Linked DNA regions of Homo sapiens. The protein of the gene in region 4 interacts with the protein of the main gene of each other region in a biochemical or structural test. Each region holds a gene or a part of one and is shown on either strand. Other genes may lie near its edges.

The links.
Region 1: the proteins of YWHAG (region 4) and ING1 form a complex in vitro, tested with the Homo sapiens proteins (one study listed by BioGRID).
Region 2: the proteins of YWHAG (region 4) and SOS1 interact in a biophysical measurement, tested with the Homo sapiens proteins (one study listed by IntAct).
Region 3: the proteins of YWHAG (region 4) and SAMSN1 form a complex in vitro, tested with the Homo sapiens proteins (one study listed by BioGRID).
Region 5: the proteins of YWHAG (region 4) and UBE3A form a complex in vitro, tested with the Homo sapiens proteins (one study listed by BioGRID).
Region 6: the proteins of YWHAG (region 4) and LRRK2 interact in a biophysical measurement, tested with the Homo sapiens proteins (one study listed by IntAct).
Region 7: the proteins of YWHAG (region 4) and USP37 form a complex in vitro, tested with the Homo sapiens proteins (one study listed by BioGRID).

Annotation. Positions count from the first base shown.
Region 1 is NC_000013.11:110,715,890-110,720,199, forward strand, and holds part of ING1 (inhibitor of growth protein 1), read left to right. Parts: coding exon of another isoform or gene 1-119; intron 120-3,339; coding exon 3,340-4,043; 3' UTR 4,044-4,310. UniProt on the Homo sapiens protein: Cooperates with p53/TP53 in the negative regulatory pathway of cell growth by modulating p53-dependent transcriptional activation. Implicated as a tumor suppressor gene.
Region 2 is NC_000002.12:39,023,552-39,027,861, reverse strand, and holds part of SOS1 (son of sevenless homolog 1), read left to right. Parts: intron 1-3,724; coding exon 3,725-3,852; intron 3,853-4,310.
Region 3 is NC_000021.9:14,539,338-14,543,647, reverse strand, and holds part of SAMSN1 (SAM domain-containing protein SAMSN-1), read left to right. Parts: intron 1-4,310. UniProt on the Homo sapiens protein: Negative regulator of B-cell activation. Down-regulates cell proliferation (in vitro). Promotes RAC1-dependent membrane ruffle formation and reorganization of the actin cytoskeleton. Regulates cell spreading and cell polarization. Stimulates HDAC1 activity.
Region 4 is NC_000007.14:76,352,492-76,355,991, reverse strand, and holds part of YWHAG (14-3-3 protein gamma), read left to right. Parts: intron 1-3,500. UniProt on the Homo sapiens protein: Adapter protein implicated in the regulation of a large spectrum of both general and specialized signaling pathways. Binds to a large number of partners, usually by recognition of a phosphoserine or phosphothreonine motif.
Region 5 is NC_000015.10:25,369,515-25,373,824, reverse strand, and holds part of UBE3A (ubiquitin-protein ligase E3A), read left to right. Parts: intron 1-2,012; coding exon 2,013-3,259; intron 3,260-4,310. UniProt on the Homo sapiens protein: E3 ubiquitin-protein ligase which accepts ubiquitin from an E2 ubiquitin-conjugating enzyme in the form of a thioester and transfers it to its substrates.
Region 6 is NC_000012.12:40,304,478-40,308,787, reverse strand, and holds part of LRRK2 (leucine-rich repeat serine/threonine-protein kinase 2), read right to left. Parts: intron 3,004-4,310; coding exon 2,822-3,003; intron 322-2,821; coding exon 92-321; intron 1-91. UniProt on the Homo sapiens protein: Serine/threonine-protein kinase which phosphorylates a broad range of proteins involved in multiple processes such as neuronal plasticity, innate immunity, autophagy, and vesicle trafficking.
Region 7 is NC_000002.12:218,473,838-218,478,147, reverse strand, and holds part of USP37 (ubiquitin carboxyl-terminal hydrolase 37), read left to right. Parts: intron 1-1,166; coding exon 1,167-1,308; intron 1,309-3,262; coding exon 3,263-3,518; intron 3,519-4,310. UniProt on the Homo sapiens protein: Deubiquitinase that plays a role in different processes including cell cycle regulation, DNA replication or DNA damage response.

The DNA.
Region 1 (4,310 bases), on a different chromosome or scaffold from region 4:
GGCTCGGGGCCGGGGCTGCAGTTCGGACCGCCTCCCGCGACCCGCGGGGCCGGCTCGGAGACAGTTTCAGGCCGCATCTCTGCTGACCCGAGGGTGGGGCCGCGCGTGGCCGTGGAAACGTGAGTGACTGGGGCTGCGTCCACGAGGGGGACCCTCGGCGCAGAAACTTTTCTGGAAGGTGCTGTCCTCGGGCCGGACGGGCCCCGTGGGGTGACCCTGGGGCTCCGGACGGAAGGAAGGCAGGGGCTGAGACCACTTTGATCGTTCGACGATAGAAAAAAGTAGCGCGGGGCGGGGTGCAGGGTTCCAGCTGTCCAGACAGCAAAGTTCATGGAGCCACTTTGTCCTCCTGTCGTTGCTGGGGAGAGCCTGGCTTGCTGCTTGCTTCATGTTCACCTAGGGTGATGAACTTTTTGGCTTCAGGAAAGATCACAGTCCTGCCCCCCCGGGAGTACTGGAGCGGCGCAGCTGGGAGCGCCGAGAAGCGAGCGAATCTGTCGCAAGGGTCACAGCTCCTTGGACTTCGGTGTAAATGCTGAGCTCTGCCGCGTAGTTCTGAAAGACTTCCACAGACCTACTCTGTAGGAAGTCAAACGTCTTTTGCTTAGTAGGCATCAGTTGTATGTTAATTCATAAACTTGGATTATAATTAGTTTGTCGATTTAAAATGGTGTTTGAGGTTGCTTGAATTATTTTTCAAACATTATCATAAAAATACCCACCCACCCCCTGGGAAGTTCGCTTCATAAAGAACTTCAGTGCAACCCGTATGTAAAATTAAAATACATTTAAAATAATTGGACAAACCAATTTAAATGTTGCTACAACCCCATTTAATCTGTAAATTGCATGTGCTGCTGCTTTCCATGGTAATGTTGGTGTGGAATATGTTTGGAAAAAAGGCAGTAGTGTCTGAAGCTGAGTTGCTGGCATTGAAAAAGCAGAGTGTCTGGAAGGATGGCTTCCTATTTAGCAGTGGTGTTGTTCCTGTTTATAAATATTTGTACTTAGTGGCTTTGTTGATAAAATACTTTGCTTGGAGTATCAAAGAAATATTAGGTAACAGAAATACTTCTTGGTAATTTTGCGATGGGATATCTGTTTCTCTTGCCCACAAATTAGGCTTCACCTGGATGGAAGCTTGCTTGTGATGTAAAATAACTTCTGTGTTATTAAATTTTAAATTTATATGATACAGTTTTCTGTGAAATGACAATATTGTCTTTAGAACTTTGATTACTGATGAAAAGAAGTGATACCATTTTGTAACCCTAAATCCATTTAAAAATAAATGGTACACATATTTTAACATTATGATAAATAAGTTGAATAAATTGGTATTACTTGGATACGTTGAACACAGCTATTTATTTTTATAATTAATTACTATATGAGACTAGGGCTTTCCTCCTGGTGGCAGGCAGCCTGCATTGTTCCTCTAGGAGTCTTCAAAGCTGTCTTTAGTTTGAGAATATACTCTGGAAAATATTACCATTTAGAGAAGCTTCAGCGTTGGCCTGAGTTCTTATGTTTACTCTAGTGTTAGGTATATGTCTTATAACTATTTGGAGATAAGATCTGGAAAGGAAGGGGGTAACATTTTAGACAATCCCTCCCACTCTCAGCCCCTCCCCTAGTTTACAAGTAGTATTGTTGGCCAGGCACGGTGGCTCACTCCTGTAATCCCAGCACCATGGGAGACCGAGGCGGGCGGATCACCTGAGGTCGAGAGTTGGGAGACCAGCCTGTCCAACATGGAGACACCCTGTCTCTACTGAAAATACAGAATTAGCCGGGCGTGGTATTACATGCCTGTAATCCCAGCTACTCGGGAGGCTGAGGCAGGAGAATCGCTTGAACCTGGGAGGCAGGTTGCAGTGAGCTGAGATCGCGCCATTGCACTCCAGCCTGGGCAACAAGAGTGAAACTCCGTTTCAACAACAACAAAAAAAGGTAGTATTGTTGCCTTGTTTAAAGAGACTGCAAAAAGGTTTTAGGAGAATAATCTGGTACTGTTTAATTTAATGGTTACTGTTTGAGGAAAAAGAACTCTGGAATTTCTGTGTATTTAAGTAGCCTTTTTAGCAAGGCTGTTTACTTCAACTAGATTTTTTAATAGCTTTTGTTTCTTGAGAAATTGCCTAATTACACTTGCCAAATTACACTTTAAAATCATATACACTGTCCTCTAACATGCCCAGGAAGGTTTACATTTAAATACTGAAGAGGTTTTCTTTTGTTTTTGATAACATTTTAAAGTCCATTGACTTTAACAGATGTGAAGATGTTTTTGTTTAAGCAGTAGATGCAAAAGTAAAACCTACCAGCTTCGCTTTAAAGCAAGGCTAGTGCATTCACTGCAGTTAAAAAATAATAATAATAGCCCATCACAGTGGTGCTTCTGTAGTCCCAGCTACTCAGGAGGCTGAGGTGGGAGGGTCCCTTGAACCTGGGAGGTCGAGGCTGCAGTGAGCCGAGATTGCACCACTGCACTCCAGCCTGGGCGACAGAGACGGACCTTGTCTCCAAAATAATAACAAGTCGTAATAATAATAAAGCAAAGCTAGGTTTTCTGGATTATTGTGGCAGAACTGTTCTTGCTGTCACTAATACAGAGGGATAACATGCTAGAATAAATGTGGGGACTGAAACTGAGGACCTAAGTCACAAAGTATCCTGGACCTTTACTGTTAACCCGGTTCTTTAAATCATAGAGAGCTATTATATAAATTTATACACATTCTCTCATTTAACAGGGTATTCTAGATGTTGGTATATTAAAATAAAGAAAATAAAGACCTTTTTTATTTGAAATATTCAAATAATTTATAATATATTTTATTAATGTTTGTATATTGTGTATAAATGTAATAAATACCATGTTTATATAATGTTATATGTATATTAATAATTGTATTCAAATAGAAACATTTGAGTAAAAATGATGGCAGTATAGACATAGTCATTAATAGAAAGTATTAATAAATGTTGGGTCCCGAGCACTGCACCTCATTTAAACGTTTCCTCTTAATGGCTTCGGGCGTTGTCACCCGTGCGTGCCTGGGAACTGTTCTCAGGTTCCCTGGGGTGGCTGGAGCGGCTCCTGCCGCTGTGGAAGCTGGGCCGGCATTTGTGTTGTGTTGTGTTGTGTTGTGTTGTGTTGTGGTTAGCACAGGAACAGATAGGCCCGGGAGAGCCTGTGGCTGGTGGGCTTTGTTCTGGGCAAGCCGTGCGCTGGCCCCTAGGCTCCCTGCCAGCCCTCTCCGTAGACCCGTCCGGGGCCGTGTGGGTTGTCCCGGTGTCCTGCTCGCGAGTGACGCCTGTCCTTCTTGCCCCCAGAGATCCTGAAGGAGCTAGACGAGTGCTACGAGCGCTTCAGTCGCGAGACAGACGGGGCGCAGAAGCGGCGGATGCTGCACTGTGTGCAGCGCGCGCTGATCCGCAGCCAGGAGCTGGGCGACGAGAAGATCCAGATCGTGAGCCAGATGGTGGAGCTGGTGGAGAACCGCACGCGGCAGGTGGACAGCCACGTGGAGCTGTTCGAGGCGCAGCAGGAGCTGGGCGACACAGCGGGCAACAGCGGCAAGGCTGGCGCGGACAGGCCCAAAGGCGAGGCGGCAGCGCAGGCTGACAAGCCCAACAGCAAGCGCTCACGGCGGCAGCGCAACAACGAGAACCGTGAGAACGCGTCCAGCAACCACGACCACGACGACGGCGCCTCGGGCACACCCAAGGAGAAGAAGGCCAAGACCTCCAAGAAGAAGAAGCGCTCCAAGGCCAAGGCGGAGCGAGAGGCGTCCCCTGCCGACCTCCCCATCGACCCCAACGAACCCACGTACTGTCTGTGCAACCAGGTCTCCTATGGGGAGATGATCGGCTGCGACAACGACGAGTGCCCCATCGAGTGGTTCCACTTCTCGTGCGTGGGGCTCAATCATAAACCCAAGGGCAAGTGGTACTGTCCCAAGTGCCGGGGGGAGAACGAGAAGACCATGGACAAAGCCCTGGAGAAATCCAAAAAAGAGAGGGCTTACAACAGGTAGTTTGTGGACAGGCGCCTGGTGTGAGGAGGACAAAATAAACCGTGTATTTATTACATTGCTGCCTTTGTTGAGGTGCAAGGAGTGTAAAATGTATATTTTTAAAGAATGTTAGTAAAGGAACCATTCCTTTCATAGGGATGGCAGTGATTCTGTTTGCCTTTTGTTTTCATTGGTACACGTGTAACAAGAAAGTGGTCTGTGGATCAGCATTTTAGAAACTACAAATATAGGTTTGATTCAACACTTAAGTCTCAGACTGATTTCTTG
Region 2 (4,310 bases), on a different chromosome or scaffold from region 4:
ACAAGACTCCATCTCAAAAAAAAAAAAAAAATAATAATATGATTCCCTAGATGAGTTTAAGTACAATCTCATATGGTAATATAATCTCAGGATTTAGTACTTTTTTTAAAACTATTCAAATAAACTGCCTTTGTACAAATGTAATTGTTACTATTGCACATTATTATTAAATAGGCACTCATGAAAAGCATGGTATTGAATATCACTGGTAACAAGAGGATGCTGCTTTGTTGAGTCTCATTTACATACTAATTGCCACTGCTTTGTCTCTGTAGCCACAATAAGCCACCCTTTTGATGGTAGTTAGCTTGAATTATATTGCACCAGTGCCAAGTTTAAATTAGCTATGTTAAGTAAAAGAAGCAAAAAGTGGTAGAAGAAAGGTCATTTATTACACTGAAATTTATTTTAGAGGCTTGCCTAATGCTATAAAGGTAAAAATGACATTTTAAAAGTATTTCATCAGGAAAGTTTTATGGGTTTGAAATGTACTTTGGGTTTGTGGCTTTTAAAATATTAACATTTTTGAGATACCAGAATATTCTGTATGTAAAATGCTACAGTTAAATAGTAGATAAATGATTCCAAAACTTGAAACATTTTTAGGATAGAAAATCAAAGGATGTCCAAGTGGATTTTTTCTTTTATAAATATTTTTATGTGTATGAGAATTATATATTTTGTCTACCATTAGGTATGTTTTCCTGAATTAAAAATATAAAAAATGTATCCAGGACAAAATATCAAATGCTCAATATTCTGCTACCTGTTAGTTATTTAAGACCGAAAAATTGCCTTGTATCTTACTGACTTGAATTTCTCTGGGCTTTGCTTTTGAGTGATTAAATTCTCAATCAACTCAGTGAACTAATTCATCGTTCAGTGGTGCTTTCATTAAATTTGCCTTAAGGTATACAGCAAGCTTGTCTAACCCCCGGCCCAACACAAATTTGTAAACTTTCTTAAAACATTATGAGATTTTTTTGCAATTTTTAAAAAGCTCATCAGCTCTCGTTAGTGTTAGTATATTTTATGTGTGGCCCAAGATAATAATTCTTCCAGTTTGGCCCAGGGAAGCCAAAATATTGGATACCCCTGGTATATAGCTTTCAATGTTAGATTATCTGCTGCTTTAAAGACTAAACTTGATAATGTTTAATGGTAACATTTTATTTGTCTCCCAGAATTCTGCCATGTGAGAGGCAAATAGTTTCAAATGATAGGGATGGAAGGTACTTTGAGAGATTACCTGGATTCCAGCCTTCAGCCTACTAGTAATATCTGTTAAGTAAAAACCTAGTATCTTTCTTTATGAACCCTGGCCATTGGCTTTCTTTAATCTAGCTGGCCATATTGAAGAACAATATTATGAATAAAAGATATTTGATTTTTGTATTAATATGTACACTTTTAAAGTCTCTTATCCTTTGGAAAATATCTTTCGTTACCCTTTTTATGTTGAGAATTGTTAGGAATAAATTTTTCTGTTTTTTTTTTTTTTTTTTTTGAGACGGAGTCTCACTCTGTTGCCCAGGCTGGAGTGCAGTGGCACGATCACGGCTCACTGCAACCTCTGACCCCTGAGTTCAGGCGATTCTTCTGCCTCAGCCTCCCGAGTAGCTGGGACTACAGGCGTGTGCCACCACACCCAGCTAATTTTTGTATTTTTAGTAGAGACGGGGTTTTACCATATTGGCCAGGCTGGTCTCAAACTCCTGACCTCGTGATCCCCCCGCCTCAGCCTCCCAAAGTGCTGGGATTACAGGCATGAACCACCGTGCCCAGCCTAAATTTTTCTTTTACTTAACACAGTTAAGACTGAAAATTTTCCTAAAAATGTAGATTATGCCTCTAGTAGAAAGTATGGTGAGTTTTTAATAATGAATATAAGAAATCTGGATAATAAAAGCTAAGTATTAAACATTACAATATGGTATTCATTACTTCTAGAATATTTGACCATTAAAGTATTTTAAGTAAATTTTAATAAAAATGGTTTAGAATATAAGTAAGAAATCTGTTTACTTTTCACAGGTCATCAGTGCATGTGGTATGTGCATGCGCATGCATGTAACTGATTTTTATCAATTGAAGCAGAAAGGAATGTGTTGTTGACCTTTAAGGAATACCTGTGAAAAACACAAAATCCTTAAAGTACTAATGTACTAATGAATACTTAAGCTAATTGAAAAGTAAACTTCTAGCCAGGCATGGTGGCTTACGCCTGTAATCCCAGCACTTTGGGAGGCCGAAGCAGGCAGATCACTTGAGGTCAGGAGTTTGAGACCAGCCTGGCTAACATGGTGAAAACTTGTCTCTACTAGAAGTAAAAAAAAAAAAAAAAATCAGTCAGGTGTGGTGACAGACACCCGTAATCGCAGCTACTCGGGAGGCTGAGGCAGGAGAACTACTTGAAGCTGGGAGGCAGAGGTTGCAGTGAGCTGAGATTGCACCGCTGCACCCTAGCCTGGGGTACAGAGCAAGACTCCATCTAAAAAAAAAAAAGAAAAATAAACTTCTTTATAAATCACTTTGAATATTTCATGATTGTGTATCTCAAGTCTTTTCATTCATGGTAGAGAGTAGGTATTCCTAAATTGTTGGATGAAAACTCTATTGATAAAATGTTATTTTATTTTATTTTAATAGACGGTATCTCAAACTCGTAGGCTTAAGCGATCCTCCCACCTGGGCCTCCCAAAGTGCTGAGATTATAGGCATAGGCCATTGCAGCCAGCCAATATGTGATTTCTTAACTTTTCCTTTTGGTAACCAGGAACAGGTTTAAGATGTATGAGTGAATTATTGTGACTCATACATCTGTTAAGTGCTTGCTTGAATCATAGCCACCTTACTGTATTGACAATTAGTTACTGATGACTTAGTTCTTGTTAAGTAGAGACGTTCTGTCTGACACAGATATTTGCCAGTAATAGAAAATATGCTTGAGTTTCAGTTTCATAAATATGTATATTATAGCTTCACTCAAAATCTTAATGTGGATATGGACAAAGTTCTTTATTATACTAATGTTAATTCTGTAGTATAATTACAAAGAAAACCATTTACACTTACATTGTGTGTTACCATTTACAAAGTGCTTTGGTTTTTAATAACAACCCCTAAAAGTAGGCAGGGTAGGCTTTTTATAAGCCTTATTTGGCAAATGGGAAAAGTAAGACTCAGAGATCAAGTGACTTGCCCCAAGGTCACACAGAAGTAGAGTCAAAATTTGATCCTAGATTTTGTAATTGAGATTCCTTCTACTATATTGCATCGTTCTCTGTATATTTATCTTCCTTATCATCTCAATATTATATAACAATAATATAGGGGTCAGAAACCTAAGACCAAATTCCACACTTAAAAAAAAAAAAACCTCGTCTACATGCTTAGTGGTATGCTAACTCTATGATAATTCAGTAGATCGATTATGCTCCCCATTTCTTTTCAGTGGTATGCACCTTGAAAAACTACATATTACTGCCTGTCACAAGATATAACCCATCTTAACACTGCTAATCTTGGTCTTTTAATGTAGAAAACTTGGTTGTGTATTAATAGTAACACACAAGAAAAACACTTTTAAAAAGAATATTTGATGACACATTTAAAATTTTTATTGTGACAGTTGAATAAATGTTATTTTTATCCTTAAATGAGTTTATTATTATTTTATCCAAAAATGTACTACTGGTTCAGATTTGTCATTTTGGCTTTACAGCAGTTAGAAGAAAAAAGTGAAGATCAAGAAGACAAGGAATGTTTAAAACAAGCAATAACAGCTTTGCTTAATGTTCAGAGTGGTATGGAAAAAATATGTTCTAAAAGTCTTGCAAAACGAAGACTGAGGTGAATATTTTTACTTTTTAAAATATCCTTTTTTCCCTGAATATTGTGGTGTAAATTCAGGGATCCCAGTTCCCTCCTCAAGTAAACAATGAAGAAAATAGTTTTAGTGACAAGCCTGGTCTTTTAGAGGAAGTGACATCAAAGCCAAGAGAATTGTTATTGTTTGAAAAACCTTTCATATTTGTGCATTTTCCTTGCATACTCCCAGACAAGACCTCCTGAGAGTCAACTGGTAAGCTGAAGGAGAGACAGAGTAAAATGTATCGGGTAGATTTATGTTGGCATCGTTATTCTGTCAAAGTAAAATTATTAGTGTCCTTTATTTTAGGGATTATATAACTTGAGGCATTAATTCAGATAACATTGCTTCCACTTTCCTGATTATAATATGTGCTACATGTTTTTAGCTTTGGGTCTTGTCCATTTAAACTCTTCTAAATAATTTATTTTAATCTTTC
Region 3 (4,310 bases), on a different chromosome or scaffold from region 4:
TGCAATGCATATTATAACTAATGTTACCTCAATTAAAAATGATCAAACTTTCCAATTGAAAGCTAATGGAGAAAGATTTTGTTATTAGTATTTTCAAATAGGTCTTACAGTTATGAGAAGGTTCAAAACATTCATTTATATAATATGTAGCAATAGATTTTCAGTCCTATATCAAAAATAATTCATTATTTTCTTATATTCCTAAAACTTATCGATAAACATGTTCATGAATTTAAAAAGAGTAAGTCCAAATACATGTTAAAATACAGTTTTACCATGTGTAGTGTTATCATTAGTGTACCCTCTTTTTCATCCTTTATTTCTCTCTTTCTCTATTTTTAGTATAGGTTCTCTCCTTTGAATAGCTCAAAATTAAGAGTAGCATTCAAATTTATTGTAAGACACTTACAGTATAGGCTGAGAGGCAGAGACCAGAGATATTCTATAACAGAAACTGGTAAATTCTTGCAGAATTATTACAAAAGAAACCCATTGCATGTACTGGAATGTTAATAACTTCTAAGGGCTTTAATGTGTGTCTCAGAACTCTCTACTGTATACAGATAAATTCCAAATTAGAAAAGAAATAGGAGAATAATAGTTAAGTATTCTGTACTTAGGTTAGTTAAAAATAGGCTTGCTTAACATACATGCAAGGTACTGTTATCTTTATTCTTGAATTTTGCCTTTACCTTGGAAACAGAGTCTTGCTCTGTCACCCAGGCTGGAGTTGATGTGGTGCAATCACATAACCCTAACCCTAACCCTAACCTCCTGGGTGGACTCAAGCTACCTCCCATCTCAGCCTCCTGAGTAGCTGGGACCACAGGCACCATGCCACCAGCCCAGCTAATTTTTAATTTTTTATAGAGATGAGGTCTCCTTATGTTGCTCAGGCTGGTCTCAAACTCCTATGTTCAAGTGATCTTCCCATCTCAAACCACCTCAGCCTTCCAAAGTGCTGGGATTACAGGCATGAGCAACCACAACTGGCTGTTTTACCTCTTACTACTAGTGTCCATTACTGATAGTGATTTTAAAAACTTTTAAGCATATACAATATTCAGATTTGATGAGATGTTATTGCATTACACTCTATAAATGCTTAAATTATAGAACATAACAATTTTCCTTGTCTGTTTTTCCAACTAAAATATTTTATTTTTCTATATTTATCATTGGTTTATTTTCATGTCAGTTGCTGTGCTTACAGCTTTTTGTACACTAATTTATTTAATATTTGTAACAACTGTGAGAGAATGACTCTTATTTAGCCTCATATGTAGAGCCTAAGGCATAAGGAAGGTCAATTACCTTGAAGAAGACACAGAGTTAGATGAAAAATGAAACTGACATGAAATATGTTAATTTCCAATACTTCTGTTCTTAATATACTGCCTTTATAAGCAACAGGACTGTAGATATTATTTCTGTTTCCACCTGAATTGCCAGCTAAAGTTTATGGAGATCAGGGAAACCATGTCTGTAAGAGCGTCTGTAAGTTTAGAAATCGTCATTCCTGTCTCTGACTATGCAGGAAGTTCATCAAAGAAATCTCTCTAGGCGTCCACACACATGTCAACACCTACAATTGTAAAAAAACTTTCTTTCTTTTCCGTTCGTTCCTTCTTTCTCCTTCCTTCCTTCCTTTTTTTTTTTTCAGGGTCTCATTCTGTTACCCAGGCTTGAGTGCAGGCACAATCACCACTCACTGCAGCGTCAGCATGCCTGAGCTTATGTGACTCTCCTGCCTCAGCCTCCCGAGTCGCTGGAATCACAGTCCTGCACCACCATGCTCAGCTAGTATTTATATGTTTTGTAGACATGGGGGTTTTGCTAGATTGTCCAGGCTAACAACTTTCTTAATATTCAAATATTTTAAAAAATGACCTAATATTGAAGTAAGCACCACATATCCTCCCTCTGCAGCTAGCATAATACTTTCAACGTAGTAGACTCTCAATAAATATTTGTAAAGTGAATGAAGTTTCTTCAGTCTACTCTAGGGGTGTCTAATCTTTTGGCCTTCCTGGGCCACACTGGAAGAAGAAGAATTTTCTTGGACCACATATAAAATACATTAACACGAAGTATAATTTATGAGCTAAAAACAAACAAACAAACAAAAAAAACCACAAAAAATCACAAACAAATCTCATAATATTTTAAGAAAGTTTATGAATTTGTGTGGGGCCACATGCAAAGCCGTCAAGGCCACATTCAAAGCCATCATGGGCTACAGGGTAATACACCCTTGGTCTACTACATACAGCCTGGTTCAAGTATGGATACTCACTCAAGCTATGTACTTTTTTTTTTTTTTTACAGGATTTTGTTTGTTTTATCTGTCTTTGTTTCTTTGTTTATTTTTCCATTATTATACTTTAAGTTCTAGGGTACATGTGCAGGTTTGTTACATATGTATACATGTGCCATGTTGGTGAGCTGCAACCATTAACTCGTCATTTACATTAGGTATTTCTCTTAATGCTATCCCTCCCCCCTCCCCCAACCCCACAACAGGCCCTGGTGTGTGATGTTCCCTGCCCTGTGTCCAGATGTTCCCATTGTTCAATTCCCACTGATGAGTGAGAACATGCGGTGTTTGGTTTTCCGTCCTTGCAATAGTTTGCTCAGAATGATGGTTTCCAGCTTCATCCATGTCCCTACAAAGGACATGAACTCATCATTTTTTATGGCTGCATGGTATTCCATGGTGTATGTGCCACATTTTCTTAATCCAGTCTATCATTGATGGACATTTGGGTTGGTTCCAAGTCTTTGCTATTGTGAACAGTGCCACAATAAACATACATGTGCATGTGTCTTTATAGCAGCATGATTTATAATCCTTTGGGTATATACCCAGCAATGGGATGGCTGGCTCAAATGGAATTACTAGTTCTAGATCCTTGAGGAATCGCCACATAGTCTTCCACAATGGTTGAACTAGTTTACAGTCCCACCAACAGTGTAAATGTGTTCCTATTTCTCCACATCCTCTCCAGCACCTGTTGTTTCCTGACTTTTTAATGATCGCCATTCTAACTGGTGTGAGATGGTATCTCATTGTGGTTTTGATTTGCATTTCTCTGATGGCCAGTGATGATGAGCATTTTTTCATGTGTCTTTTGGCTGCATAAATGTCTTCTTTTGAGAAGTGTCCTTTGTTCACTTTTTGATGGGGTTGTTTGTTTTTTTCTTGTATATTTGTTGGAGTTCACTGTAGATTCTGGATATTAGCGCTTTGTCAGATGAGTAGATTGCAAAAATTTTCTCCCATTCTGTAGGTTGCCTGTTCATTCTGATGGTAGTTTCTTTTGCTGTGCAGAAGCTCTTTAGTTCAATTAGATCCCATTTGTCAATTTTGGCTTTTGTTGCCATTGCTTTTGGTGTTTTAGACATGAAGTCCTTGCCCATGCCTATGTCCTGAATGGTAATGCCTAGGTTTTCTTCTAGGATTTTTATGGTTTTAGGTCTAACATGTAAGTCTTTAATCCATCTTGAAGTAATTTTTGTATAAGGTGTAAGGAAGGGATCCAGTTTCAGCTTTCTACATATGGCTAACCAGTTTTCCCAGCACCATTTATTAAATAGGGAATCCTTTCCCCATTGCTTGTTTTCTCAGGTTTGTCAAAGATCAGATAGTTGTAGATATGTGGCATTATTTCTGAGGGCTCTGTTCTGTTCCATTGGTCTATATCTCTGTTTTGGTACCAATACCATGCTGTTTTGTTACTGTAGTCTTGTAGTATAGTTTGAAGTCAGGTAGCGTGATGCCTCCAGCTTTGTTCTTCTGGCTTAGGATTGACTTGGCGATGCGGGCTCTTTTTTGGTTGCATATGAACTTCAAAGTAGTTTTTTCCGATTCTGTGGAGTAAGTCATTGGTAGCTTGATGGGTATGGCATTGAATCTATAAATTACCTTGGGCAGTGTGGCCATTTTCACGATATTGATTCTTCCCACCCATGAGCATGGAATGTTCTTCCATTTGTTTGTATCTTCTTTTATTTCATTGAGCAATGGTTTGTAGTTCTCCTTGAAGAGGTCCTTCACATCCCTTGTAAGTTGGATTCCTATTTATTTTATTCTCTTTGAAGCAATTGTGAATGGGAGTTCAATCATGATTTGGCTCTCTGTTTGTCTGTTATTGGTGTGTAAGAATGCTTGTGATTTTCGCACACTGATTTTGTATCCTGAGACTTTACTGAAGTTGCCTATCAGCTTAAGGAGATTTTGGGCTGAGATAATGGGGTTTTCTAGATATACAATCATGTCATCTGCAAACAGAGGCAATTTGACTTCCTCT
Region 4 (3,500 bases):
ATTTTGAAAAGAAGGAAAGAGGAATGTTAGGTCTTTTAAGACAGATGTTTAGTCTTGTATTGAAGGAGAGTGAACACCTAGATGTATCCTACGTATTAGACAATACTGTCTTGTCCTTTGACTTTTACTAGTCTCTTGAGAAGTTAATATTTTAAATAGGCTACTGGTACTTGCCTTGGGGAGAAAAGGTTCAGGGTTACTAATTTTGTTGAAGTTACTGAGTTAAGCAGTTTAACTCAATGAGGGGTGGGAGGGCAAAGGTGGCAAAAGGCTATCATAATTTTTCTAAATATTCCTAGTGGGATCAATAGACTTTCAAATTCTTTCTATCTTAAATATTCCATTCCCCCTCCCCCCCAGGCTCTTCCAGGAGATCAATAGCTATTATCACTAATGGAGTAATGGTACCTCTGTAGACTCTTCAGAGGTGGAGTTCTGCCAACCATTATTCTAAGTCATGTGGCTTGAATTGTTCTCTTCTTGGGCGTGGAAAGAATACAGATCATACAGCTTGCCTTTCATGTGTTAGCCTTCCCAGTAACTGAAGCAGATATTAAGTGCTTTTTCTGATTATTTTGGAAATCTATGTGTTTTTTGAATTCTACTGAGATTCAACATGGCGCTAAATGTTCATCCTCATTGCAGTCCTGGATTAACTGCAAACCTAAGAGTAGGATTTCATCTCTTGTACTCAGGGAAGCCTTATTTATTAAGCCAATCTTTAAATTATTGAAAAGAGTGGAGAAAACGATGTGTTTTTATCGAGGTAAAAGTTGCGTAACATAACTGTCACATAGTCACATCAGATTTCAAGTGCAATTGAGTGGCATTGGGTACATTCCGTGTTGTGCAGCCATCACCTATGTTGAAGAAGAGAGAAAGTGGTTATTTTTAAAAAGTGATGCCGGTCTGGACTACAGCTGGCTGGAATTCAGCACCTATTCAGGAATGTGTCGATAATGGAGTGCCCACAACAGCTCACAGCCAGCGATAATTGTCTATCCCTTTGTCTTCATTTCCAAGCGTCTGAACTGAAAAAAGGGAATTAGCTTTAGCTACGTTTGTACTGTATTTCCACTTAAAAAGTTATGGAACTTGAACACTGTATAATGTTCACCCAAATAAATAAGAACAATTTACTTGAAATCTGAGCAAATCGTTAACTCTTTGGGGATTATGGAAATTTTGCTGGTGTTCTAGTGACTCGTTTTCAGCCCTAAGGCTGGCTTTATTATCAGTGATTTGCCGCCTGTGTGGTAGTGGTTTCCTAATGAGTAGGATGCAGGGTTGAGACTGGGGAGCTCCTGCAGCATGAGGCTCTTAACTGATGGGACGCCAGCACAAGACATTCAGTACATTGTGGCTGTCAGGAGCTGGATGGGAAAAGTAGTTACTTTTCCCTTCTTTGCCCATTCCCAATATCAGCAGTCCTAACCTTATTTTATTTTATTGTATTTTATTTTAATTTTTTTGAGACGGAGTCTTGCTCTGTCACCCAGGCTGGAGTGCAGTGGGCAGTGGTGTGGTATCTCGGCTCACCGCAACCTCTGCCTCCCAGGTTCAAGTGATTCTCCTGCCTCAGCCTCCCAAGTAGCTGGGATTACAGGCACCCACCACCACGCCCAGTGAATTTTTGTAGTTTTGATAGAGACAGGGTTTCACCATGTTGGCCAGGCTGAGCTCGAACTCCTGACTTCAGGTGATCTGCCCACCTCAGCCTCCCAAAGTGCTGGGATTACAGGCGTGAGCCACCGTGCCCAGCCTCAAGGACCACTTTCTATGCTCGGTAGTCAAAGGGAAATACTACTTTTAAATGATATAAAACGTTATCTTCTCTTTGCCTTCTTTTGAAAGTTACTTAGTGTTTTACCAGATATTCCAGTCTATAATTATGTGTGCGTTTGATTGCTTGTTTTTTGTTTTTTTTTTTTTTGAGGCAAGGTCTCACTCTGTCACCCAGGCTGGAGCATGGCTCACTGCAGCCTCCACCTCACAGGCTAAAGCGACCCTCCAGCCCCAGCCACCCAAGTAGTTGGGACTACAGGAGCATGCTACCACACCTGGCTATTTTTTTGTACCGTTTTTTGTAGGAACGGGGTGTTGCCATGTTGTCCAGGCTGGTCTTGAGCTCCTGGACTCAAGCAGTCTGCCCATCTTGGCCTCCCAAAGTACTGGGATTACAGGTGTGAGCCACCACACCCAGCCCGGTCTATAATTATAATGCAGCTAAATGTTGCCTTTCTACAAAGGCTACCAATACCAGCTGCCTTATGGCCTCTCCTCTCAGAATTATTTTTCTGTATCTTCCCCAAATTCCATTTTAGGTGTCAGCTATCATTTTGATTAACTACCAAAACATATTATTTTACTTAAAATTGTCATTTGTAGAAATCTTGAAAATTTTGATATTTTGCTAAATGAATTTATGAATTTGAGTGGTAGAAAATTAGTTACACGAAAACTGATTTAAAAAATTCCCTGGGTCAGGCACGGTGGCTCACGCCTGTAATCCCAGCACTTTGGGAGGCTGAGGCAGGTGGACCATGAGGTCAGGAGTTGGAGACCAGCCTGACCAACATGGTGAAACTTGTCTCTACTAAAAATACAAAAAATTAGCTGGGCATGGTGGCATGCACCTGTAATCCTAGCTACTTGGGAGGCTGAGGCCGGAGAATTACTTGAACCTGGGAGGTGGAGGTTGCAGGGAGTTGAGATTGCACCACTGCACTCCAGCCTGGGTGACAGAGCAAGACTCCATCTTGAAAAAAAGAAAAAAAATTCCCAAAAGAAAGCTTTAATTTTAAGGTAAATAGTTATAAATAATTGGTTTGCTACCATGATTTTGTAGAAAAAATAAAAATTGTAAATCTTAAAAGACCATGTGCATGAGTCTTTTCTTTCTGTTTAAAGAACTGGTGAAGTCTTAGTTAAATTGCTCCCAGCATTTCACTTGTTAAGTGTGTGTCCTACAGAAATAGACTTTTCTTTACCTGAGTTGAATACTACTAATATGTGCTGCATGGCATTAAGTTTTGGTTATGGGCCGGATGTAGTGGCTCACGCCTGTAATCCCAGCACTTTGGGAGGTCGAGGTGGGTTGATCACTTGAGGTCAGGAGTTCAAGACCAGCCTGCTCAACATGGTGAAATCCCATCTGTACTAAAAATAACAAAAATTAGCTGGGCATGGTGGCGCATGCCTGTAATCCCAGCTACTAGAGAGGCTGAGGTAGGAGAATCACTTGAACCCAAGAGGCAGAGGTTGCAGTGAGCTGAGGTCATACCACTGCACTCCAGCCTGGGTGACAGTGTGAGACTCTGTCTCTAAAAAAAAAAAAAAGTTTTGGTTGTGAATAGGAAAGAGAGTGTTCTTACATAATTTAGATTTTTAACATAACATTAAAACAATAAAATTATTCCAAATAAACTCTTGGGCTTCTTAACCTTTGGAAGGGTACCTGTCTTTGGAGAGAGAAAGCCCATTTTGGTGAGTGGGACCCA
Region 5 (4,310 bases), on a different chromosome or scaffold from region 4:
TTTTATCTATATACCTGAAAAATTCAGTTTAACATATTAAACACTACAGGCCAGGCACAGTGGCTCACGCCTGTAATCCCAGCACTTTGGGAGGCTGAGGCGGGCGAATCACGACGTCAAGAGATCGAGACCAACCTGGCCAACGTGGTGAAACCCCCTCTCTACTAAAAATACAAAAAAATTAGCCAGTTGTGGTGGCGTGCATCTGTAGTCCCAGCTACTTGGGAGGCTGAGGTAGGAGAATCGTTTGAACCCGGGAGGCAGAAGTTGCAGTGAGCCGAAATGGTGCCACTGCATTCCAACCTGGCAACAGAGTGAGACTCCATGTCAAAAAACAACAACAAAAAACACTCCTTGGAAAAAGTATAGGTACATTCTATATAGGATTAGTAGACTGTCAGAATCACTTGAAGATGTTCCGAAAGCATGACATATCAACAAAGGACATGTGAGTCTAGAATGGTGATCCCTAGGACAGGCCATATTACTGCATGCAAAGCAAGTCTTTGTTAACCTTATGACTTGCTCAGGAAGCAAAGTGTTTCATGTCCTAATAGGATAGTAGTATTTTCTGTTATGTTACATTTTAGGAAATTAGGAGTTTTGCATTGTCTTGTAAGAAGGTATTTTAAAAATTTTCAATGAAAATAATGAGAAATAGGTTTCCAGTGGTTTTATGCTTTTGGGGAAGAGGTTACTGATGTTTAGCAAAAGATGCTTATATATTCTTAATAGAACAAACCTGAGAATTAGTTCTTAAAGAGTTAAGGCCCATAAAAGAAACTGTAAGTGTTGGTACTCTTGTAGCTGGGCCACAGATCAGATCCTTAGTATGATAAAATTTGGTATTTTTGTGCTTCAATTTTTGGAGACCATTCAATGATCACTTACATTTTATATTGTCTTTCATTGTGAAACATATATTATAGCAGAGGTGGGAGTCATTAAAAATTCTACATGTTGTACACTACATGTATAAGGGTATATTTGGCGCAATGGAGGTAGGATTGTCTGTGTGCCTCTAAAATTAACCTCTCAAGTAGTTAATCTGATGATGACAAGTATGTCACTTTATTGATAAAAGGGAGAATTAAGACTATTCTCAGTATTATGTTGGTCAGTACACAAAATATATCATTTGTTTTTACCTGTGAAATGAAATATCTTTCATCCTATTAGCCAGAAGGGAGAAAGCCTTGGCCTGAAAATAACACTTATCTCAAAAAGTTGGGAAATGTGGTCCAACTCTGTGCCCAGGAAAAGAGGAAATAGATTTTGATGACTACATAGTCTCTGCACTGCTTGCCAGCTCATAAGTTTACTTCTTTGCACTGTTTGTTTTCATTGCTCAAAAACTATTTTCTGTCACTCTATGAGATTTAGTCTAACCTGATTCCTGGCTGTGGAAAGCAGTTTCTACTTAAGAGCCGATGAGAAATGGTATATTCTTCTCAATCACTCACAGAATGACTACCCTGGAACAAACTAGGAAGACCCAAAATGAACCAGTTTGATTTTAATACATACATAGATGCTGAAGGAGCCTTTTTTTAAGACCTTGCCTTCTTAGTCTTTGGAGAACAGAGTACTGAAACAAGAAAACTCACAGATTAGTAGTATTTCTGTGTGTTCTACAGTGAGGTTTTAAGAGCTGTATTATGATTAATCAGTACATGACATATTGGTTCATATTTATAATTAAAGCTATACATTAATAGATATCTTGATTATAAAGAAAGTTTAAACTCATGATCTTATTAAGAGTTATACATTGTTGAAAGAATGTAAAAGCATGGGTGAGGTCATTGGTATAGGTAGGTAGTTCATTGAAAAAAATAGGTAAGCATTAAATTTTGTTTGCTGAATCTAAGTATTAGATACTTTAAGAGTTGTATATCATAAATGATATTGAGCCTAGAATGTTTGGCTGTTTTACTTTTAGAACTTTTTGCAACAGAGTAAACATACATATTATGAAAATAAATGTTCTCTTTTTTCCTCTGATTTTCTAGATGTGACTTACTTAACAGAAGAGAAGGTATATGAAATTCTTGAATTATGTAGAGAAAGAGAGGATTATTCCCCTTTAATCCGTGTTATTGGAAGAGTTTTTTCTAGTGCTGAGGCATTGGTACAGAGCTTCCGGAAAGTTAAACAACACACCAAGGAAGAACTGAAATCTCTTCAAGCAAAAGATGAAGACAAAGATGAAGATGAAAAGGAAAAAGCTGCATGTTCTGCTGCTGCTATGGAAGAAGACTCAGAAGCATCTTCCTCAAGGATAGGTGATAGCTCACAGGGAGACAACAATTTGCAAAAATTAGGCCCTGATGATGTGTCTGTGGATATTGATGCCATTAGAAGGGTCTACACCAGATTGCTCTCTAATGAAAAAATTGAAACTGCCTTTCTCAATGCACTTGTATATTTGTCACCTAACGTGGAATGTGACTTGACGTATCACAATGTATACTCTCGAGATCCTAATTATCTGAATTTGTTCATTATCGTAATGGAGAATAGAAATCTCCACAGTCCTGAATATCTGGAAATGGCTTTGCCATTATTTTGCAAAGCGATGAGCAAGCTACCCCTTGCAGCCCAAGGAAAACTGATCAGACTGTGGTCTAAATACAATGCAGACCAGATTCGGAGAATGATGGAGACATTTCAGCAACTTATTACTTATAAAGTCATAAGCAATGAATTTAACAGTCGAAATCTAGTGAATGATGATGATGCCATTGTTGCTGCTTCGAAGTGCTTGAAAATGGTTTACTATGCAAATGTAGTGGGAGGGGAAGTGGACACAAATCACAATGAAGAAGATGATGAAGAGCCCATCCCTGAGTCCAGCGAGCTGACACTTCAGGAACTTTTGGGAGAAGAAAGAAGAAACAAGAAAGGTCCTCGAGTGGACCCCCTGGAAACTGAACTTGGTGTTAAAACCCTGGATTGTCGAAAACCACTTATCCCTTTTGAAGAGTTTATTAATGAACCACTGAATGAGGTTCTAGAAATGGATAAAGATTATACTTTTTTCAAAGTAGAAACAGAGAACAAATTCTCTTTTATGACATGTCCCTTTATATTGAATGCTGTCACAAAGAATTTGGGATTATATTATGACAATAGAATTCGCATGTACAGTGAACGAAGAATCACTGTTCTCTACAGCTTAGTTCAAGGACAGCAGTTGAATCCATATTTGAGACTCAAAGTTAGACGTGACCATATCATAGATGATGCACTTGTCCGGGTAAGTTGGGCTGCTAGATTAAAAACCTAATAATGGGGATATCATGATACAGTTCAGTGAATTCATTTTAAAAGTGACTGAAAAAAATGATACCATATAGCATAGGAACACATGGACATTTCTGATCTTATATAAGTATTATACTTTTGTTGTTCCTGTGCAAGTTTATAGATGTGTTCTACAAAGTATCGGTTGTATTATATAATGGTCATGCTATCTTTGAAAAAGAATGGGTTTTCTAAATCTTGAAAACTAAATCCAAAGTTTCTTTCATTCAGAAGAGAATAGAGTGTTGGACAAAGACCAGAACAAGAGAAATGTGGAGATACCCAATAATAAGTGTGGATGTGCAGTCTTGAACTGGGAGTAATGGTACAGTAAAACCATACCATAAAATTATAGGTAGTGTCCAAAAAATTCCATCGTGTAAAATTCAGAGTTGCATTATTGTGGACTTGATGAAGTGACCATGGCAGATCAGTGCCTGTTGCCAGTAAGAGTTGAGTCCTGCTGGGCCACTTAGAATATCCCTGTGTGGACGGCACTGCCTGGCTGTGGTAGTTTCTTCCCACTTAAAAATTCATAGAGACAACTCTGGGTCTTGGAACTTCTGGAAAACAGCAGCTATTCCAAAAATCTGGGGATTAGTGGTGCCTGTAACATCAAGTCCAGGGAGATTGAGCAGGGAAATACTGGAAACTCAGGTACTCATCCTAACTTCCTGGTTTTCCAGATGGGGTTGCCATTTGTTCCTTTTCTTTCCTCCACAAGATAATTTTAGTGTATCTGTTTAAGAATATAAGAGTGGCCAGAAGACAGAAAGCAGTCGTCAGTCACATTTCACCAAAATTTACATTTGTCTCAGGTGCATTATCGCAGAGCTTTATTGTATTTCTAGTATTAGCTATCCCTGTCATTGCTGCTACTTTTTTATCATCTTCAAGTAAAATTTAATGTCAACAAAAATTAAGGTAGTTAATAATACTATAGTATACTAGTAAAGTTGTCTGACACAGACAACTAGGAAATGTGATTTTTACTTTAAAATGTA
Region 6 (4,310 bases), on a different chromosome or scaffold from region 4:
TTCTGGATATTAGAACAGAAAGCTCAGTTTTTGAATCCCTGTTCCAAACAAATGGTAAAAGTGAATTTTAAAATTCTATAGAAAGAAATACCTGCAAAATCCCACACATTTAGGACGAGATCTCTCTTTCTTTTGTCTCTTATTTGGATAGGCCAGTCTTTCACATCTATGCCAACTGTGGCACTTTGCATTCCAAGATCTGATTTCTTGGTTTTCATTAATTGCTGCAATAAGGTGGTTTTACCACTCCCAGTATTTCCCACAATCATAAGTTTCATTCGGTTATAAGGCACAGCCTTTTTTAATCGCTGTTGAAGAAACCTAGTATTTGAAAGATAAAAATAAAATAATAAACTGCTTAAAAGTATACTTGAGATTTAGGTGAGTTCTTTTACATGTCACACTATTCTAAAATATAGTATCCAGAAGAGTGCATATCTCATATAACTAATAATGTACATGTCTTTCAGAGTACTGTTAATGCATATATTTTGCTAGAGATTTTAGGGTAGTTGATAATGTTTGGTAAAATCACCAAAGAAAACATGTTACACTATCACCAGAAATAATCAAAAGGCCAAAATATGTTTGCAATACTAATTAGAATACGATATGCAATATATATATACCTCTATATATACACACATATACATACATGTATACATATTCTAATGTCTTTAAATAGTATGAAAAACCCTACAAATTATACGCCAGGTGCGGTGGCTCGCACCTGTAATCCCTGCATTTTGGGAGGCCGAGGTGGGCGGATCATGAGGTCAGGAGTTTGAGACCAGCCTGGCCAATATAGTGAAACCCCGTCTCTATTAAAAATCCAAAAAGTAGCCGGGAACAGTGGCAGGTGCCTGTAATTCCAGCTACTTGGGAGGTTGAGGCAGGAGAATCGCCTGAAGCCAAGAGGCAGAGGTTGCAGTGAGCCAAGATCAGGCCACTGCACTCCAGCCTGGGTGACAAGAGTGAAACTCAGTCTCAAAAAAAAAAAAAAAAAGAAAAGAAAAGAAAAGAAAAACCCTATAAATTATAAAGTTCAAAATTTCACAAAGTCCATATGACATAGAAACAAGGTAGAGATATATGTATACTGTTAAAGCTTGATAATAGGGTCATATTAGTTACATTATATATGTGTGTGTATATATTCATATATGGTATATATGATGTATAGCTATATATTCATGTATATCACATATGCATATAATAGTATATATGGATAGTGAGATCACATAACATCATAAATAAATATAAACTATTATACTATCAGCAGATGTTAGCTTTCATTCCTAATGATCTTAATGTAAAACCTGAATGAAATAGAAGTGTTTAGGTAGCTAAAAAACCACCTTTAAACTAATAGTAGAGTCAAAGTGTTATCAAAAATATAATGGATAGAGAAAGATATATTTTGAAATATGTTAAAATGTTGCCACAGTTTCAAATTAGAGAAAAAGACTAAATCATAAGTGAATTTTACATCAGAGTAGTGATCAATTCATTCCTGTAACTAATAAGAATCTGACCAACATTCCTGATGATATGACCAAAAAGCAACATTACCTTTCTTGATTTATTTCTTAAGAATGCACCACTATTTGAAAAAATGTCTTTCTTCAAAAAGCAAATGATGCCTACAATTTCTAATCTGCTCTAGGTCTTTCTGTCTTTTCTGAAAATGTTAAACATGTTTAAAAATATTTAGTTATATATTAAATTAAATATTAAATATTAAAAATATTTAGTTAGATAATACAGTATAATACACTGAAAGCTAGTTCTACTAAATGTTTAGTAAGAACTGAACCAATTTTTATATGACCATCTTTTCCAGTTTCAAGAGAGAAAAATAATTGGGTAGGATGAAGGGTAGCCACAATTAGCACAAAAGATAACAAACTCCTTTAAAATGAAATCAAGCTCAGGAGTTCAGAAAACAAAATCCTTCCTCATAAAAACAGATGAAGTTAAATATAAATTTAAGAGATTTTAGGCAGAAGAGAATGAGTAAGTATAAATCACTGGTAATTAAACAACTATTAATTGTATGCCAGGCACTGTGTTGGGTGCCAAGATTTGAATAGTGAGTGAACACAGCCATGGTCTCTGCCTTGGTGGATATTACAGTCAAGTTGAGAGGTGATGACAGAGCTGAGGTCTGCAACGTTAATACAGTAACTGTGGAAAAGGGAGCAAAGGATTTTATGAGAAAGTAATAAGACCGATGTGCTGAAAGGGAACAAAAAGGAGGATAAAATCCATTACCAAAGATATTTAAAGTGCTTAAAGTGTAAAGACCAGAAACAGTGATACTTGAGAAGTTTTGGTGCTTTCAAAACTGATCAAGGTGAGTAGATTACTCATCCTAATGGGCAAAATAGAAGTTAGTAATTTCACATGATGTCAGTAGCTATAATGCTTTAAGATGTAAGAGGCATATGTTAACTAGTTGCTATATGAAATACAGTGTGAGAAGTTATTATACTGTGCTGTATTTCTTTAGATTGTGTAATTGGTAACCAGAGACCAAATAGCAATACTTATTTTCTTTTAGAGTCTACTCCACTGAAAAGAAACAGAAGGAGGAGAAGCCGCTCTCAACATTAGTCTGGCTAAGAAGAATGAGAAATCTCTACAGTGGCACCACAGAAACACATTCATTAAATGAAAGGCAAATGACACACAGCATATTAATGCCAAATATTACTATTTATTTTTCCCTAAATAGTAACAATATATGTCCATCAAAGTCACAGAGAGTAGAAAATCTGAAATAAATTTAGTAAAACCAAATAGAAAAAAATTATCTAACCTTATGATGTCTTTGGCTTTACATCCTATATGTTTAAAATCAAAGTTAAGATGCAGTTCATCCAAAGGAAGATCCCATATTTTGCTTAATTTCCCCATTTCATTGGGAAAGGATCTTAGTTCCAAGTTGTAACTGACATCCAGAGATGTCAGATTTTCAAGACAGCCAATCTCAGGAGGAATCTTAATGGGAAAAAAAAGGGCAAAACCTGTTGGTGGGAAGGAAGAAATGTGCTCTGCCAAAAAACGTGATAAGAAACAAGAAAGGCTCACAGATTCCATCAGCAGCTTGCACAACCTTTCAACAGAGTTTTAAAACTTTCCAAAGGTTTGTCATAAGTTGTCAGTATGTGTTTAAAAACATAAAAACTTACATATAAAAACTTACTCCCAAACAATCTATGTCACTCATCTGTAATATTAAAAAACCCAATCTCCTTTGGTAACATACTTCATCTCTTCAAGACATTGAAAGTAAGGAAGTTCTTACCACAAAATGGATTTGGTTATCCATTATCTGTGACTTCATTCTGCTCCTTCAGTAAAGGCAAGAAGACCTAGTCACTACAAACCTGCATGCAATTTAGTGTTCTCAAAGTACAGCTACATGCTTATACTTTAGGTGGCATCCTAATTGGAGTAATTTCTTTTCTGTTCCAAATTTTTAAGCAATATATACTATATTTATAATAGAAAACACTCATTTGCTGGCAAAAAATCAGGTAGCAAAATATATGCACAGTTTTGCTGAACCTCACAGTGTCAGACACTTAATTCTTTTGGTTTTTGTAGGCAATACGCTAGAACTTGAAAAATAATATTTTCTGAGACAAACAAATTATCAATTTCAGATTTACAACAGAGAGAATGGAGCAAAACAAAAAAGGTTGATCCATTAGGGTGATAGCATGGTGGCGGAATGCAGAAATTTAAGAATGTACCAAGGAAAGCTGAAAAACAAGTAATACAGTATACAGGCCAGTAACAACTTGAGAAAAATGGTTTATTTAAGAGTCTGTTAACAGATTGGACAGAGATTTGGTGATACAATGACACACAGCATCACATTCATCTATAATTATGTATATATTCATATAATCCTTTAAAAGTATATCACAAAAGTAATTTTTTGAGGAAATTATGCTGTGTTACCATATCCATTTACCATAGGGTAGGCTTACAACTTGTTTAAAAAACAAAAAAAAATTGAATGGTATTGATATTTACAATGCTTATTTTGAATTTATAGTTATTAAATGACATCCACTACTATTCCATAGAACACTCTTTATGAGCTAGTACTATAAAGAATTTTTATCCTTATACTATCTTGTGTATTAGCAAAGCGTTCTAAGTTGTTTTGTCATAGTTAAGTAACAGTTAAGAATAATTTGAGTTAATCTATAATATGTTATATGATAACATCACACATAATTTGAAATGAATATTCTAATAATTTTTACTTTGTACAAATGTTGGGTAGACAAATT
Region 7 (4,310 bases), on a different chromosome or scaffold from region 4:
CCTGATTTCCACTCTGGCCTCTTATTTCTTGGTGCCATTAGTCTATATGTTTATTTTCAGTTTTTACATTCAGGTTAATTGTATTTTCTAGTTTTCATTTTATATATATTTTTTGTATTGCATATGAATTTGTGTTAACCTCCATCAAAGAAAGTTCTTGTTCTTTGACCTTTACCACTTTTTTCTTTAGTTTATTTTCGGCTTACCTAGAAGACAACACAGTAACACCTTACTTATCTGGCATCATTAAAGGATTCCACATAAGTGAATTTTTATATAACTGAAGCTTACCTTTTAACGATTTATCTTTTAAAAGATTTTTAACAGTTTGGATGAAAATGTTTCTAAAATATGTTACACTGTTCCTTACATTCTTAAAATAACTAAGGATAATTTAAGTATATCTTAATGACTTAGAATCAGCATTTTAAGTATCAATTATTGCACTGTGTTTCAATATGATATTGCCCTCAGAGGCTCTTAATTATTACAAGATAGTTTGCTTTTACATTAAATGACTTTATAGTTCTTGTTTGCCTTTCTTGTGGTTATTCTTTCTCATTTCTTAGCTCTCATTTCTTGATGAACTTGATACACTATTTTATTCACCATTTCCTGGGAAAGAAAGGGTCCCTCTAAGTACATGGGCTTTGGAACTGCCTTCCTCAGAAGCCTTTTTTCTTACTTTGGAATCCCTATGTTCTGGAAAGTAGAGGTTGCCAGAAGTCTGACCTACAGATAAGTGGATAAGTGGAATGTTACTGTTATTTTTAAAGTGCATGGATCATAATTTAAAAGATCACAAATTAGTCTTCATGCACTTTGTTGTCAAAAACATTTATTCATTGCTATGCCTGCATGAATTCAATAGCATAATTTATAAAGACAATAGCAAATTTCATTGGGGTTGATCATTAAAAGAAAAAAGGCACAACATGATTAGTTTACTGATGATACGTAGTAGCATAAGAGTTGTCCAGTTTTCAAAGCATGGCTCTTTTGGAGTGGGGCAAAGGTAATGCTGAAATATACCTCTTTTGATATATCTTTTTTTTCTGTTAAGTAATTTTCCGTAATGGAAAAGCAATTTGTTTTGATATTTTTACAATAAAAGAATAACAAAGACAAATGTTTATCAGGCTTTTTTTTTTTTCCTTAAATTACAGGAAATTCACCTTCAAATCCAAGAGCTCCTTGGCTTTATGCCTTGATTCAGACAGTGAGGATGAGCTAAAACGTTCTGTGGCCCTCAGCCAGAGACTTTGTGAAATGTTAGGCAACGAACAGCAGCAGGAAGACCTGGAAAAAGTAAGTAATATTTTCTTAAAACATCTGACAAAGATTTGTTTATCTCTTACTGTCCAAACAAATGTCTTTCATAACCATCATCAAACTAATTAGTTTTAAAGAAAATGCCTTCTCTGGCTACAGAAATCAGTCTGTTTACAGATGGATCAAGACTTACGAGAAATTCGTTGTTCTAAACAAATTACTTTCTTTTTTTGCCCTTCAAAGCTACTTTTGCATATTCGTCCTCAAATAATTACTTGCTTTATTTTGGTAGCAGTTTTTTAAGACAGGGTATCGCTCTGTTGCCCAGGCTGGAGTACAGTGGTGTAATCACGGCTCACCACAGCATCGTTCTCCTGGGCTCAAACAATCCTCCTACCTCAGCTCCCCAAGTAGCTGGGACTACAGGCATGTACCACCATGCCTGGCTAGTTTTTAAAATTTTTTGTAGAGACAAGGTCTTACTGTGTGACCTAGGCAGGTCTAAAATTCCTGGGCTCAGGTGATCCTACCACCTCAGCTTCCCTAAGTGCTGGGATTACAGGCATGAGCCACTACTCCCAGCCTGTAGCAATTGTTTATGTGAGGGAACTGTAGTAAACATTTTACATCAACAGAGCAACCAAGTAATCTAATTGTTTAAATTATGGATTTATTAATTGGATTAATATATAGATAATTATATGGATAGTTAATACTTTGAAGATCTAAGCTTTTCTAGGTGTTTGCATTATCTTATGCTACTGTATTTTATTTTAAGCCTCCCTTTTAAATAATAGAATTATTTTAGTAGTTATTTTTGTTCTGTTTCCTATCTTACTTTAAAGCCAGAGGTAGTTTGTGGTTGTTCAACTTGAATGAGAAATGTGTGAAAGTCCAAAATTCTCCCAGAAAACAACTTTTGAATATTTACATAATCTTTTTTTTTTTTTGAGACGGAGTCTCACTCTGTTGCCCAGGCTGGAGTGCAGTGGCACGATCTTGGCTCACTGCAGTCTCTATCCCCCAGGTTCAAGTGATTCTCCTGCCTCAGCCTCCTGAGTAGCTGGGATTACAGACGTACACCACAACATCTCCCTAATTTTTGGGTTTTGGTTTTTTATTTAATTTATTTATTTATTTATTTTTGAGACAGACTCTTGCCCTGTCACCCAGGCTGGAGTGCAGTGGTGTGATCTTAGCTTGCTGCATCCTCCACCTCCCAGGTTCAGGCGATTCTCTGTCTCCCTAGTAGCTGGGACTACAGGTGCGTGCCACCATGCCTGGCTAATTTTTTTGTATTTTTAGTAGAGATGGAGTTTATCCATGTTGGCCAGGCTGATCTCGAACTCCTGGCCTCAAGTGATCTGCTGGCCTCGACCTCCCAAAGTGCTGGGATTACAGGCATGAGCCACCACGCCCAGCCTAATTTTTGTATTTTTAGTAAAGACGGGTTTTCGCCATGTTGGCCAGGCTGGTCTCAAACTCCTGACCTCAGGTGATCCACCGCTGGGATTACAGGCGTGAGCCACCTCGCCCAGCCTTCTTTACATAATCTTGATGTCGTGTTTATTTTTCTCATTTATTGTTAATAAGATCAGCTAACATTTATAATGGTGTAGTAGGCATAATGATAGAATATTTACTGTATAATCTATATATATCTGGAAGAAAATAAATTGAAAATACTTAGAGTAATTATCTCTGAGTAATCTATTTTGAATGAATTTATTTTATTATTTTTATGTATTCTCCAAATTTGTACAAAATATATACTTATTTCAATCAAGAAAAAATAATGTATTCTTATGTATTTATTATTTTTAAAGTTAGACTCACCATTTAGTTTATATATTGGTTATTGATTGTTAAATAACCCAAAGCATCAAAGAAAGGAAACTTTTTAGAAATAAAGTTGCTACTTTAAATACTAATTAAGATTGCTATATTTGTAGGTATTCTGGTTTCTTCTAAAAGTAACTCTCTTCTTCAGGATTCAAAATTATGCCCAATAGAGCCTGACAAGTCTGAATTGGAAAACTCAGGATTTGACAGAATGAGCGAAGAAGAGCTTCTAGCAGCTGTCTTGGAGATAAGTAAGAGAGATGCTTCACCATCTCTGAGTCATGAAGATGATGATAAGCCAACTAGCAGCCCAGATACCGGATTTGCAGAAGATGATATTCAAGAAATGCCAGAAAATCCAGACACTATGGAAACTGAGAAGCCCAAAACAATCACAGAGCTGGGTAGGTTTAATGAAGATTAAACCTCTGTGAAACAAAACATAACTCTTTCAAAGTTTTGTAGTGACAAATAACCTCCAAATAACGGGAGATAAATAGAAAAATTAGCTGAGCATGGTGGTGTGTGACCCTAATCCCAGCTACTCGGGAGGCTGAGGCAGGAGAATTCGCTTGAACCGGGAGGCGGAGGTTGCAGTGAGCCAAGATTGCACCACTGCACTCCAGCCTGGGCGACAGAGTGAGACTCCTTCTCAGATAAAAACAAATAAAGGGAGGTGAAGTGGATCTGTATATAACAGGGTTGATGGCATTTTCATTCTGTATTATAAAAAGCTTTGAAAAATGAGAAGCAAATATTGTGACTAGTACACAGATACTAGTGGTAAAGTATGCCATATCCCTTTAGGTATACATCACTAGTAAAACTAGCCTTCTTATGTGCATTTAATATATGTTTGTGTCAGTTCTGAGGTGCTTTTCTCACCACTGCTATTTCAGAAATTCATATAATTCTTTCATTTTCCTATATCTGAATTTACACCAGGTGTTAGGGTATAAATAATTCAAGTTCTCCATTCCCTGCACAATGCATTGCTTTTTCTATGTTTAGATGTATTTAGATACACAACTACTTACCATTGTGTTACAGTTGCCTACAGTACTCAGTACAGTAACATGCTTTACAGGTTTATAGCCCAGGAGCTATGCCATGTAGCCTAGATGTATAGTCAGCTATACCATCTAGGTTTGTGTTGAATATACTCGAAGATGTTCGCACAAAGACGAAATCACTTA